Homo sapiens: one gene and its partner. The protein of the gene in region 1 interacts with the protein of each later gene in a pairwise test. Each region holds a gene or a part of one and is shown on either strand. Other genes may lie near its edges.

Evidence for each region. The genes of interacting proteins can lie anywhere in the genome.
Region 2: the proteins of NDUFA5 (region 1) and SETDB1 interact in binary tests that used the Homo sapiens proteins (3 or more experiments, as listed by UniProt).

The regions. Positions count from the first base shown.
Region 1 is NC_000007.14:123,554,805-123,562,396, forward strand, and holds the start of NDUFA5 (NADH dehydrogenase [ubiquinone] 1 alpha subcomplex subunit 5), read right to left. Parts: upstream 3,015-7,592; 5' UTR 2,992-3,014; coding exon 2,971-2,991; exon of another isoform or gene 2,842-2,970; coding exon of another isoform or gene 2,821-2,841; intron 2,645-2,820; coding exon 2,600-2,644; intron 2,516-2,599; exon of another isoform or gene 1-2,515. UniProt on the Homo sapiens protein: Accessory subunit of the mitochondrial membrane respiratory chain NADH dehydrogenase (Complex I), that is believed not to be involved in catalysis. Complex I functions in the transfer of electrons from NADH to the respiratory chain.
Region 2 is NC_000001.11:150,957,337-150,964,362, forward strand, and holds part of SETDB1 (histone-lysine N-methyltransferase SETDB1), read left to right. Parts: intron 1-1,841; coding exon 1,842-2,011; intron 2,012-3,226; coding exon 3,227-3,855; intron 3,856-4,793; coding exon 4,794-4,822; intron 4,823-5,250; coding exon 5,251-5,383; intron 5,384-5,637; coding exon 5,638-5,803; intron 5,804-6,193; coding exon 6,194-6,405; intron 6,406-6,658; coding exon 6,659-6,747; intron 6,748-6,910; coding exon 6,911-7,026. UniProt on the Homo sapiens protein: Histone methyltransferase that specifically trimethylates 'Lys-9' of histone H3. H3 'Lys-9' trimethylation represents a specific tag for epigenetic transcriptional repression by recruiting HP1 (CBX1, CBX3 and/or CBX5) proteins to methylated histones.

The sequences.
Region 1 (7,592 bases):
TCCCGAGTAGCTGGGACTAGGTGCACACCACCACACCTGATTAATTTCCACATTTTTTGTAGAGACGGGGTTTTGCCATGTTGGCCAGGCTGGTCTTAAACTCCTGGGCTAAAGCAATCCACCCGCCTCAGCCTCCCAAAGTGCTGGGATTACAGGCGTGAGCCAGCACGTCCAGCCTGCTTATCTCTTATTGTGCCTAATTCATAAATTAAACTTTATTATAGGTATGTATGAAACAAAACATAGCATATATACAGTTTGGTACTATATGTGGTTTTCAGACATCCACTGGGGATTTTGGAATATACTGCTGTACAGGACACATAAGGAAATGCATAGGAGATAAAGTTAGAGAAAATGTCACATTATAAGTGGTTCTGCATTCCAAGTTAAAGCATTCGGGCTTTATTCTGTGGACAATTAAAAGATTTAGGAAAATCATATGATTAGATTAGGAAAATTAGCTTCATTGTAGTGAGTTAAAAGGACTGAAGGAGAAACAAGGCAGAAAGGCCAGTAAGGAGGTTGTTGCAATTCTCTAAACAAGAACAAGGACCTGAACTATGGTAGTAACAATAGAAATAGTAAACAGAAGTCAGACTGGAGAGCTGTTATAGAAAAGGATCAGCAAAAAAAATAAAAATAAAAATCATCATTGGAATGAATATGAGAGTACAAGTATAAGAGAAATACCAACTATGATGTCCAAATTCCCAGCCTAGGGAGTAGAAAGATCTGAAACTATCAAGAAAAATACAGCCCACAGAGGAAGAAATATATTTAGAAGGGAAAAACCATGAGTTCAGTTCTTTACATCAATGACAATAAAGTTATTATGAAATCATAGGAAGTGCAAGACACTCATTCAACTAACACTATTTACTGAGCACATACTATGTGACAGAGTTCTAGCAGTGAAACAATTACAAATCCCTGCCTTCATGAAACCTACATTCTAGTAGAGACATAACAAAATAAATCAGTAGAATAGTGAACCAGAGGGTCACAGTAAGAAACTTGTCTTTATTTAGAGTGAAATGGAAAGCCATTAGTTTTAAGGAAAGGAGAGATCTGACCTACCTCATATTTTAACAGACTAACTCTAGTAGCCTGGCTGGAAAAAAAGACCAAATGGAGGCTGTGACAAGCATTGAGAGGCAGTTAAGAAGTGAATGCAATTATCCACATCAGTGATGATGGTGACTGAGGAAGAGGGTAGTAGCAGAGGAGGTAGTGAGATGTTGTCAAAATCAAGATATATTTTGAAGGTGGAACCTAGAGGGTTTACTGAAATAACAAATGTGGAGTGTAAGAGAAAGGAAGGAATCAAAGATGATTTCAAGTTTCTGACCTGAGTCAAAATAATTGAGCTGCCATTAATTGAGATGAGCAAGACTGAGAGAAGAGCAGGTTTTAGGCAGAAGATCAGGAACCCCATTTTGGACATGTTAAGTTTGGGTTGCCTGTCTGACACATACAAATAGAGATGCCCACTAAGCAATTAAATATTCAGGACTTTTATAAAGGAAGAGGTCAGTGCTTTACATGGAAATCTGTTGTCAGTGTATAGGTGGTATTTAAAACCGTTCTCTATTTGGATTTGCTCTCTCTTGGTGACAGAGTACAGGTCCAAAAGAAAAGGTCCAAGAACTAAATCCTGACTAACTCAAATTTTAAAAGTGGGCATAAGAGAAATAACCAGAAAAAGAGAAAGCCAAAGAGTAGGGGGAAAAAATCAGGAGACTGGGGGAGTCCTGAAGCCCAGTAAAGAAAGCGCATGATGGAAAAAGTGTCAAATGTGTCAAAAAAAAAAAAACGCTGCTATTAGGTCAATGAAGGTGAGAAACATAAGCTGACCATTGGATTTGGCAACATGGAGATAACTGGTGAACTTGAAAAGAGCGTGATGGAAAAAGTGTCAAATGTGTCAAAAAACGCTGCTATTAGGTCAATGAAGGTGAGAAATATGAGCTGACCATTGGATTTGGCAGCATGGAGATAATTGGTGAACTTGAAAAACGCCAAGGGTGACTGAGTGCATTCAAGGGTGAATAAGAAAGAAATTGGAGAAAATAGAGATAACTCTTTTGAGTTATCTGTAAAGTGAAGCAAAGAAATGGTGTGATTATAGAAGGGACAAGAAGAATAAAAAAATTTTGTGGGTTTTTTTGATGAAAACATTCGTGAATACAGATGGAAAAGACCTAACAGAAGGAAAAGGGGGCAGTACCTTTAGTAAGCCTAAATATATGTAATCCAACGCACCTAAGCAGAAACGGTAAGGCAAGGAGAAAAGATGGAAAACGGAGATATAAATTTGAGATGGCGCTGACAGAAGCAAGCACAAGTGAAGCCATGAAAATGTCAAGGAAAAAGTCAACAAGAAAACTGGCTTAATAAAGAGGTCATGGCAAAAATAAATAAAAATGTGACATCGGATCAACGAAGTAGGTGGACAGCGCCCGTGTCTCAAGAGCTCACGCGGCTTGTAATTAAGGGCTTGAAACATCTGTATCCCGTTAACCCTGCAATAAGCAAAGTGACAGGAATTTAGTCTTCCTTGGGAATTCAAGAACGAAGAAAGAACAAAGGTACATACCTCGTGAGGAGTATTGCACACAGCCAATCCCACAAGGCCAGTGGTCTGTTCAAAAACAAAACACGATTCATGCTGTTTACTACGGTTTCCATACATCCAGCACGCTAAGGAAATACAAAACCACGAATCCCCCGGCTAAAACTGGTCTAAAGCCAGCTACTGGTCTCTCAGTCTCGCTTGTTTGGAGCTTTTTTCCTGACTCTCGGAGCGGAACCACTAACCTGCCCTACCCGGTAAGGCATGCAGAACGAGTCCCCGAAAAGCACCGCCGAGCCCGCGACAGTAGGGGTCAACACCCGCGGGAAGTAGGGCTATCGGACTGAGTCTACCCCCACAGTCTAAATTCCAACAGTGACCTCCATTCGTCTCACCTTCTTCAGCACACCCGCCATGACAGCGCCAACGACTCGGTGACGCACAACCCTTTGGGAACAATTCTCAGACCTGCTCAATCGACCACCGAGGTCGCCACTCTGTCACCCTGGAAACAGCTTAGCTCCACCCCTTCAGGATCGCCAAAGGAGCAAAGACTCTGCCCCGCCCATCTTAAAAGAGAAAAATTGACGCATGCGCGATGGGCATACAAGCCTAAAGCTAAGCTAGAAGACGATTGGGGAAAGAAAGGGTTTCCCAGCTGTCTGTTCCTGTTCCTGCCACTGCTGACGGCTTGCCCAAAGATTGAGGGAAACACTCCCAACTACCAAAAAACTCCAGTCGCTGTAGGAACCTGCACTGTGCTTAACCGTTGATGCATTCCTCAACCTTCCTTTCTCAGTTTAGTAAAATGAAAGTGATAACGGAGCTTGAGCATCCTCTGAATTGATCTCTCAACAGCAAGTTAGTTCTTCGCACAAGGATATCAGTATTCTCTGTGTCTTACGAACCAAAGCCCTATGGAGTGTGAGGTCATTTTCCATCGCTCTTTTCGATTTCACTGGCTGAAATACATCATCTTATTTCCAGATGAAATGATATCAGACCATACCACTTTTTCCTACCTCCACAAACACTGACCACTCACTATGTGTCAGTTACTGGGACATAATTTCTAAAATGGGATTTCACATCCTGGAATTCAAAGAATAATGAAGAAGGCGTGTATTAATAAATAATTTGGTAACTGTTCTAAAAGAAGTTGATGCAAAGTGTGATGGTACCAGGGAAAAGGAAATAACTAAAAAGCGTGGGTGACTTTCTAAAAAGTCAGTAGGAGAAAAGAACAAATTGAGAAAACACAAGTACAAAGGAAAAGAGGTTAAAAATGTATATATAAATTCCAGGTGATTTTATGTGATTGGAAAGGTGGGTTTGATTGTTAAGGTAAACTGGTTAAGATTATGAAAGGTGTTGTTTGCCATTATACAAAATTTGAATTTTACTTTTTAAGGAATGGGAACAATGAGAAGACTTTTAAGCTTCTAAGTGACACCATCAAATTTATGTTTCAGATATACAAACAACTTAGGCAACAGTTGAAGAGAATGAGTTGGAAGAGATGAGGCCTTTCATTAGAGGCATGAGACTAGAAAAAATGAAAGCTAAACCAAAAGCAAACAGAAGAAAGGAAATATTAAAGATTAGAAAAGAAGGAGACAGAATATCAATAAAGAAAATCAATGAAACCAGGAATTGGTTCCCTAAAAGGATCAACAAAATTGGCAAACCTTTAGTGAAACTAAGAAAAAAAAGAGAGAAGATTTAATACAAGCAAGAATAAAAGAACCATCACTAATAGCCTTGCTGAAATAAACAGGAATAAGAAGGAATACTATGAACAACTATGCTTAAAAAAGATAAAGTAGATAAAATGGCCAGATTCCTAGAAAAACACAAACTACCTAAATCAACTCAAGAAGGCATAAAGAAAAATCTGACTAGATCTAACATAATTAAAGAAATTGAATTAGCAAGAAAAAAAAAAAAACCTATCCAGAAGGAAAAGCACAGGTCCAGATGGCTTCGCTGGTAAATTCCACTGAACAATTAAAGAATAACACTTAAGAAACTATTCCAAAATATAGAAGAGGAGGAAACAATTAACAACTAATTCTATAAGGCAAGTATTACTCTGATTCCAACCAGACAAAGAAATCAACAAGAAACAAAAACTTCAGCCAGGTGTGGACTCTGATTCCAACCAGACAAAGAAATCAACAAGAAAAGAAAACTTCGGCTGGGCCTGGTGGCTCATGCCTGTAATCCCAGCACTTTGGGAAGCTGAGGCAGGAGGATCACCTGAGGTCAAGGGTTTGAGACAGCCTGGCCAACATGACAAAACCTTCTCTCTACTAAAAATACAAAAATTAGCCAGGCCTTGTGGTGTGTGCCTGTAATCTCAGCTACTCTGGAGGCTGAGACAGGAGAATCACTCAAACTCAGGAGGCAGAGGTTGCAGTGAGCCAAGATTGGGCCATTGCACTCTAGCCTGGGTGACAGAGCAAGATTCCGTCTCACAAAAAAAAAAAAAAAAAAGGAAAGAAAAAAGAAAATAAAACTTCAGGCCAATATCCCTTATTAATAAACACAAAATACTCAGAAAAGTACTAGCAAACCAAATTCAGTAGCATATGAAAAAAAAATTATACACCACAAATAAATGATATTTATTTCAAAAATACAAAGTTGGTTTAACATCCCCAAATCAATTAATCTAATGTACCATTGAATACAGGACAAAAACTATATGATAATTTTAATAGATGCAGAAAAAGCATTGGACAAATTTCAACATGCTTTCATGATAAAAGCACACAACAAGCTGGGAAAAGAAGAGAAATTTTTCAACCTGATAAAGATGCTTAGAAAAACCCCACAACATCATACTTAAGAGTGAAAGGCAATTCTTTTCTGCTAAGATCATTCACAAGACAAATATTTTTCCACTCTCACCACTTCTATCCAACAATATATTGGAAATATTAGCTAAGGGAATTAGGCAAGAAAATAAAATGAATAAAAGTCATCCAGAAGAGACAGGAAAAAGTAAAACTATCTCTATTCACAGTTGCATAATCTTTTATATAGGATTATTAAGGAATACACACATACATACAATTAAAACAAATAACTTCAGCAAAGTTACATTATACGTGATCTATCAGGGTCAGCTCAGGCTGCCATAACAAAATACTATGGATGAGGTGGCTTAAACAACAGAAATGTATTTCTCACAGTTCTGAAGGCTGATAAGTTTAAGACCAAAGCCAGCAAGACAGATTTCATTCTGAGGCTTTTTCTTTTGGCTTATACTGGTTACCCTCTCATGGTATGCTCATATTTACCTCTTTTCGTGTGTGCTTGGGGTTGGGTCAGGGTGGAGAGCAAGATCTCTGGTGTCCCTTTTTATAAGGCCACTGTTACCATCATGACCTCATCTAAACCTAATTATCTCCCAAAGATTCCATCTCCAAATACCATTTTATTGAGGTTTAGAGCTGTAATATATGAAATCTGGGGGACATAGTCCATAGCAATCAATATACAAAAATATGCTCTAGTCTATTATAGCAATGAATAATCTGAAAATAAATTAAGAAAACAATTCTATTTACCATAGCATCAAAAAGAAATAAATCTAACAAAATAAGTGTAACACTTGTACACTGAAAAGTATTAAATATTGTTGGAAATACTAAAGATCTAAATAAATAGACATTTCTTATTTAATGATTTGAAGTCAATATTGGTCAGATGGCAATACTCAAGTTGATGTAGCGTTTCATCACAATTCCTATCAAAATCCCAGCTTCCTTTTTGCAGAAATTTTTCACAAAAGATTTGTCAGTAGCAGAAGGCACTGTTTGATAACACTTGTCTCACAGAAGAACTCTCAAAATTGGAATCAGTCCTCTCAATTCTGCTGCTGCTTTATCAACCAAATTTATAAAATATTATAAAGACTTTGTTGTCATTTAAACAATATTCACAGTATCTTCACCAGGAGTAGATTCCATCTCAAGAAACCACTTTCTTTGTTCATTCAAGAAGCAACTCATCATCTGATCAAGTTTTATCATGAGATTGCAGCAGTTCAGTCACATCTTCAAGCTCTACTTCTAATTCTGGTTCTCTTGCTGTTTTCCTCACATTTGCAATGGCTTTTTCCACTGATCTTCAACCCCTCAAAGTCATCCATGTGAGTTGGAATCAACTTTTGCTAAACTCCTGTTAATATTGATATTTTGACCTCCTTGCATGAATCACCAATTTTTTTTTTGAGACAGAGTCTCTATTGCCCAGGCTGGAGTGCAGTGGCATGATCTTGGCTCACTGCAACCTCTGCTGCCCCAGTTCAAGCAATTCTCCTGCCTCAGCCTCCCGAGTAGCTGGAATTACAGGCATCTGCCACCGCACCCGGCTAATTTTTGTATTCTTAGTAGAGACGGGGTTTCACCGTCTTGGCCGGGCTGGTCTTGAACTCCTGACCTCATGATCCACCCACCTCAGCCTTCCAAAGTGCTAGGATTACAAGCGTGGCCACCGCACCTGGCCCATGAATCACCAAATCTTTTTAATAGCATCTAGTGTGGTCAGTTCTTTCAAGAAGGTTTTCAATTTATGTTACCCAGATCTGTCAGAGGAATCGGTATTTATGGTAACTATAGCCTTATAAAATGTATTTTTTTAAATAAGACTTGAAAGTGGACATTACTCCTTGACTCGTGGACTGCAGAATGATGACTGCAGCATGTTGTGCGTGAAAACAATGTTAATCTCTTTGTACATCTTCATCCTCAGGGCTCTTGAGTGACCAGGTACATTTTCAATGAGCAGTAATATTTTGAAAGAAATCTTCTTTTTTCTTAGCCCAGACTTTGTTGTTCCATTTATAGAACACAGGCAGACTAGATTTAGCATCATTCTTCAGGGTCCTAGGATTTTCAGGATGGTAAGTGAGCATGGGCTTCAACAGCTGCATAAGCCTGTAACAAGAGAGTTAGCCTGTCTTTTGAAGCTTTGAAGCCAGGTGTTGACTTGTCCTCTCTAGCTTTGA
Region 2 (7,026 bases), on another chromosome or scaffold:
GAAAAAACACCACCTGTATTAGGGCAGCTTTAAGGATAGAATATGTATATATAAGGCATTCACACAATGCCAAACACAAAAGTATATGCTTAGTAACTAGAAGCTGCTCTTACCATCTTTATCTGGAGAGAGGATATGACTAAAATCGTGAACTAACTGAGCTGTTGATACATTTCCAAAGTAAATTTCTTCCATTGATTTTACATACCAAGAAAATAAGTAAAATTCTAACACTGGGCAAATAGAGCAAAAACATTGTTACCTGAAACAATTAGTTTTCTTAGTATAACTGTGTTATCTTCCTTTAATGTTGGTATGTGCTAGATCCCTCTGATTACCTTTAATGGTTGTTTAAAAATAATTAAAATTTTTTTCTTTTTCAGAGATGGGGTGGACTTGCTTTGTCATTCAGGCTGGAGCGCAGTGGTATGATCATAGCTCACTGAAACCTCGAACTCCTGAGCTCAAGTGATCTTCTCACCTCAGCATCCTCAGTAGCTGGGATTACAGGCATGAGCCACTGCGCCTGGCCCAAATTCTTAAATTAGATAGAATATGAGCTCCCCTGGGCTGGGCACGGTGGCTCACACCTGTACTCCCAGCCCTTTGGTTCGCTAAGGCAGGCGGATCACATGAGGTCGGGAATTCGAGACCAGCCTGATCAACATGGATAAACTCCATCTCTACTAAAAATACAAAATTAGCAAGGCACGGTGGCGCGTGCCTGTAATCTCAGCTACTTGGGAGGCTGAGGCAGGAGAATCACTTGAACACGGGAGGTGGAGGTTGTGAGCTGAGATTGCGCCATTGCACTCCAGCCTGGGCAATGAGAGCGAAACTCTGTCTCCAAAAAAAAAAAAAAGAGCTCCCTGAGGGTAGAAATTATGACCTTTTTTTTTTTCTTTTTTTTCTTTTTTCTTTTTTTTTTTTTTTGTGACAGAGTCTCACCCTGTCGCCCAGATTGGAGTGCAGTGGCTTGATTTTGGCTCACTGCAACCTCCGCCTCCTGGGTTCAAGGAATTCTCCTACCTCAGCCTCCCAAGTAGCTGGGACTACAGATGCATGCCACCACACCCGGCTAATTTTTTAATTTTTATTAGAGACGGGGTTTTACTGTGTTAGCCAGGATGGTCTCACTCTCCTGACCTCGTGATCCACCCACCTTGGCCTCCCAAAGTGCTGGGATTATAGGCATGAGCCACCACGCCCAGCACGATCTTTTTCATTGTTATGTTTCCAGTGTTTAGTAGAGCTCTTGGTGTTTAATAATTGTTTACTGAATGAAAGAATGAAAATCAACTTTACCATGAACATTAGTCACAGTTCCTCCTATCTCTTTATTCCCTTTCGTATCTGTTATGTTGGCCTCTGTTTTTCTCACATTTATTTATTTTTATTATTATTATTATTTTTGCTGTTGTTAGTAAGAAACCTCACCAGGAATTTCTCACATGTCTTTATTTTGTGCATCTATTTCTACAAATTGACCGTCCATATAGTGCTTATTTTAATGGCTCTGTAATCTGTATTCCCATTATAGTTTACTTAGCTTTTCTCCAGGTGTTAGGCACTCTAGCATTCACTTTTATGAGCTGTCTTGCTATAGACATCTTTATAAATATTTCTCCGCCCTCTAAATTTTTTCCTTGGGCTACATTTCCAAATGAATCAAAGAGCATAGATGGTTCAATAGATCCACTCACTTAGATCATTACCTAATTTTTAATCTTTATCCACAACACATTATAAATGATGATAGCTTAAGAATTATAATAGTTTTATGGATTTTTTTGTGCTCTAGTGATCATACCGTGATTGATTTTATTCTAACCTCCTCCCAGGGTATATGAGTGTAACAAACGCTGCAAATGTGACCCAAACATGTGCACAAACCGGTTGGTGCAACATGGACTACAAGTTCGGCTACAGCTATTCAAGACACAGAACAAGGGCTGGGGTATCCGCTGCTTGGATGACATTGCCAAAGGCTCTTTTGTTTGTATTTATGCAGGTTGGTGATAAAATATAAGGGTTGTTTCCTGAGACTGGGACATGGTAGGGAATTGAACCAGAGACAAATTGAACATAAGAAGAAAGTGCTTGACATGTGAACTGGAGTAAGAGGAGGCCAGGGACTTCTACAAAGAACGTGATGAGTGATGTACCTGTCTAGCTAGACCAGAGAGGGACACAAGTGTTTCACAAATAAGAGAATGAAAAGGGATGAAATTTTGGACATGGTGATATTTCAGAGAACAGACATGATTATAGAGTCCAGTGTATCATTTTCTCCCATGTCACTCCACTCAGAGATCTTTTAGCATAGCCCAGTACTCTGTTTCAATAAAGTAGAAGAAATGGAAAGACAGAAAGGGCAAGATTTAAAATGACAGTAAGTTCTCCATACTTTCATAGTTAAGATACAAAGGGAGGTATTATCAAAGAGAAACACTGGGCCGGCGTGGTGGCTCATGCCTGTAATCCCAAAACTTTGGGAGGCCGAAGTGGGTGGATCACCTGAGGTCAGGAGTTGGAGACCAGCCTGGCCAACATAGTTGAAACCCCATCTCTACTAAAAATACAAAAATTAGCCAGGTGTGGTGGTGGATGCCTGTAATCCCAGCTACTTGGGAGGCTGAGGCAGGAGAATCACTTGAACCCTTGAGGCAGAGATTGCAGTGAGCCGAGATCATGCCACTGCACTCCAGCCTGGGTGACAAAAGCGAAACTCTGTCTCAAAAACAAAACAAAAAAAAAAACAGAAATGAGAGACCAGAATGGAGGCTTTTTGACTCTATATGCTGGTAGAGCGGGTATTGATGGAATAATCCTTATTCTTTCTAATAGGTCCCCGTGGCCGGGTGCGGTGGCTAACACCTGTAATCCCAACACTGTGGGAGGCTGAGGCGGGCAGATCACCTGAGGTCAGGAGTTCGAGACCAACCTGGCCAACATGGTGAAACGCCATCTCTACCAAAAATACAAAAAAAATTAGCCAGGCATGGTGGCGTGCACCTGTAGTCCTATCTACTCAGGAGGCTAAGGCAGGAGAATCACTTGAACCTGGGAGGCAGAGGTTGCAGTGAGCCGAGATCGCGCCACTGCACTCCAGCCTGGGTGACAGAGCAAGACTCCATCTGGAAAAAAAAAAAAAAAAAAGCAAACAAAAAAAAAAACTAATAGGTCCCCATAACCCTAGAAGGCCTTTAATTCTCTTCATTCTCAGGCAAAATCCTGACAGATGACTTTGCAGACAAGGAGGGTCTGGAAATGGGTGATGAGTACTTTGCAAATCTGGACCATATCGAGAGCGTGGAGAACTTCAAAGAAGGATATGAGAGTGATGCCCCCTGTTCCTCTGACAGCAGTGGTGTAGACTTGAAGGACCAGGAAGATGGCAACAGCGGTACAGAGGACCCTGAAGAGTCCAATGATGATAGCTCAGATGATAACTTCTGTAAGGATGAGGACTTCAGCACCAGTTCAGTGTGGCGGAGCTATGCTACCCGGAGGCAGACCCGGGGCCAGAAAGAGAACGGACTCTCTGAGACAACTTCCAAGGACTCCCACCCCCCAGATCTTGGACCCCCACATATTCCTGTTCCTCCCTCAATCCCTGTAGGTGGCTGCAATCCACCTTCCTCCGAAGAGACACCCAAGAACAAGGTGGCCTCATGGTTGAGCTGCAATAGTGTCAGTGAAGGTGGTTTTGCTGACTCTGATAGCCATTCATCCTTCAAGACTAATGAAGGTGGGGAGGGCCGGGCTGGGGGAAGCCGAATGGAGGCTGAGAAGGCCTCCACCTCAGGACTAGGCATCAAGGATGAGGGAGACATCAAACAGGCCAAGAAAGAGGTAAGCAGTGGCAGAACACTCTGAGAGCTATGGCTTTAACTTTGGTGCAGTAACAATGCAGTCTCACCATGAGTCTTTGCATGTAGATTATTCTACTTGATGGATATTTCTGTGGCCACCTCGTTATCTCTCCCCCTAACTAGCACATTCCTAGTGTTTGTTTAAAGAACCAAATTATTGACCGGGCACAGTGGCTCACACCTGTAATCCCAACACTTTGGGAGGCCGAGGCAGGTGGATAACTTGAAGTTCAGGAGTTGGAGACCATCCTGGCCAACATGGTGAAACCCCGTCTCTACTAAAAAATACAAAAATTAGCCGGGCGTGGTGGTGCATGCCTGTATTTCCAGCTACTTGGGAGGCTGAGGCAGGAGAATCGCTTGAACCTGGAGGGTGGAGGTGCAGTGAGCCGAGATCGCACCACTGCACTCCAGCCTGGGTGACAGAACGAGACTCTGTCTCAAAAAAAAAAAAATTATTTTAAAATCCACTTGCCTGGTGGTAGAGGGTGGACAAGTATCTGATTAATTACAAAATGAAAGATTTATAAGTGATTTTTTAATGTTAAATGCTGTTTCAAGTTATTCACATCATTGTTTCCTTCTACTAAAGTAGAGAAACAAGAATTGATTTTAAGTATCTCTTTGATGATTATGCTGCTTTCCACATTACAGATGGTGAAACTGTCCCTGGTTGATGTAATCCTGCTCGTGGTGTTTTCCATGAGCATTAAGCCCCATCACTGAGAAGGCTTAAAGGCTCCAGCCAGGGAGTGTAGTGAGGATTTCTGTCAAGTTGCAGAGTGGTTTACCCACCCCACTTTAGAATGTGTACCTGTCACTGGCTGATGTTATCTGTGGAGGTCATTTGAAGTCTGATTATTGGACTTGTTACCCGAGGCTGTGAAAGCATTTAACCCTTCACTTGTTCTTTTCCAGGACACTGACGACCGAAACAAGATGTCAGTGTAAGTGCCTTTTGTTTTGTTTTGTTTTGAGACAGAGTCTTGCTTTGTCACCCAGGCTGGAGTGCAGTGGCGTAATCTCAGCTCATTGCAACCTCCCCCTCCCAGGCTCAAGAGATTCTCCCACCTCAGCCTCCCTAGTAGCTGGGACTACGGGTGTGCACCACCATGCCTGGCTAGTTTTTGTATTTTTTGTAGACACGGGGTTTCACCATGTTTCCCAGACTGGTCTTGAACTCCTGGGCTCAAGCGATGCTCCCAAAGGGGATCCTCAGCCTCCCAAAGTGCTGGGATTACAGCCATGAGCTACCGTGTCCAGCCCAGTGCCTGTCTTTTTGACCTGTCTCCAAATCTGCCTTCTCTCAAACCTAGGCTAGAAGCCTAAGAAACAGCCAGTAACCTGTTGGCTTCATTCCTTCCCCTCCCATTAGAGTTACTGAAAGCTCTCGAAATTACGGTTACAATCCTTCTCCTGTGAAGCCTGAAGGACTTCGCCGCCCACCTAGTAAGACTAGTATGCATCAAAGCCGAAGACTCATGGCTTCTGCTCAGTCCAACCCTGATGTAAGTCACCTCAAGCTTATTCAGAGTCTAATAAAGGAAAATGGGCCATTGTCACCTCATCAAGTCCTTCACTATAATTACTGTTAGGTCTTCTCCTACTTCTTTAGCCTTGACTTCCTGCCTTATTTTCTTTCATCCAGCATCTAATCTTCCTCTTGCCACCGCCCTTTCCTGCCAAACCGTGGGTAACAGCAAGGACTTAAAGGAGCCCTTCCCATTTACTTCTCTTACTTCTTACCCTCCTGCTTCCCCAGGATGTCCTGACACTGTCCAGCAGCACAGAAAGTGAGGGGGAAAGTGGGACCAGCCGAAAGCCCACTGCTGGTCAGACTTCGGCTACAGCGGTTGACAGTGATGATATCCAGACCATATCCTCTGGCTCTGAAGGGGATGACTTTGAGGACAAGAAGAACATGACTGGTAGCCTGGAAAAATTTTGGGAATGGTGGGAAGAAATAGTAAGAAACTTGGGATAGAGCATTTTTTAAGGAAGCTAAAGAAGTAGTGGGTAAAAATTCAGATCCTAAGAATTGGAGCATCTCTGGGAGGGCTTTCTGACTCCAAGCTAAACTATTGTTTGACACATCCTCTCTCATTTCCATTTTTTTACTCTTTCCCCTCAGCTCCTTTGTCTAGCAGATCTAATTATGCTTGAAAAAAAAACCTGCTACTTAGGATCTTTGAGTTCCAGCTTATTGGTGTTTCTCAGCTGCAATGTTGGGAGAGAAATAGGGGTAGAATGTCCATTCATGATAGAATGTCTGTTCATGAGTTGGGATGGGTCCTGACCCCATTCTCCCTCCTGTCCAGGTCCAATGAAGCGTCAAGTGGCAGTAAAATCAACCCGAGGCTTTGCTCTTAAATCAACCCATGGGATTGCAATTAAATCAACCAACATGGCCTCTGTGGACAAGGGGGAGAGCGCACCTGTTCGTAAGAACACACGCCAATTCTATGATGGCGAGGAGTCTTGCTACATCATTGATGCCAAGCTTGAAGGCAACCTGGGCCGCTACCTCAACGTGAGACCCCTCTCCCCACCTCTAGATGCTGGATTATCCCATGGTCCTCAGATTTCTTTTAACATACTCTATAAGCCCTTTTCTTGTTATAAACTCTTGATCTCAAAGGATCTTAAAGAGGTAGCTTTCTTTCAAAGCATCTATTATAATGGGGAGGGTCAGATGGCATCATTTTTCTTCCAACTCTCACTCTCCCTGCAAAGCCAGGTTCAGTTTCCCTGGTTCTTATTTGATCCTGTCCTTAAACCTACAGCACAGTTGCAGCCCCAACCTGTTTGTCCAGAATGTCTTCGTGGATACCCATGATCTTCGCTTCCCCTGGGTGGCCTTCTTTGCCAGCAAGTAAGGAGTCAGGAAAGGGGATGACTGGGGAGGGGCAAGGACCACTGAAGTTCTAAGGGCCCCTCCTCCATTCATGATCCAACTCCACCTACATATTCAGTAACCCCAAGTGCCTGGGTTATCTGCTGTCTTTGCCACACACCATCCTTTTCTTCCTCTTCAGAAGAATCCGGGCTGGGACAGAACTTACTTGGGACTACAACTACGAGGTGGGCAGTGTGGAAGGCAAGGAGCTACTCTGTTGCTGTGGGGCCATTGAATGCAGAGGACGTCTTCTTT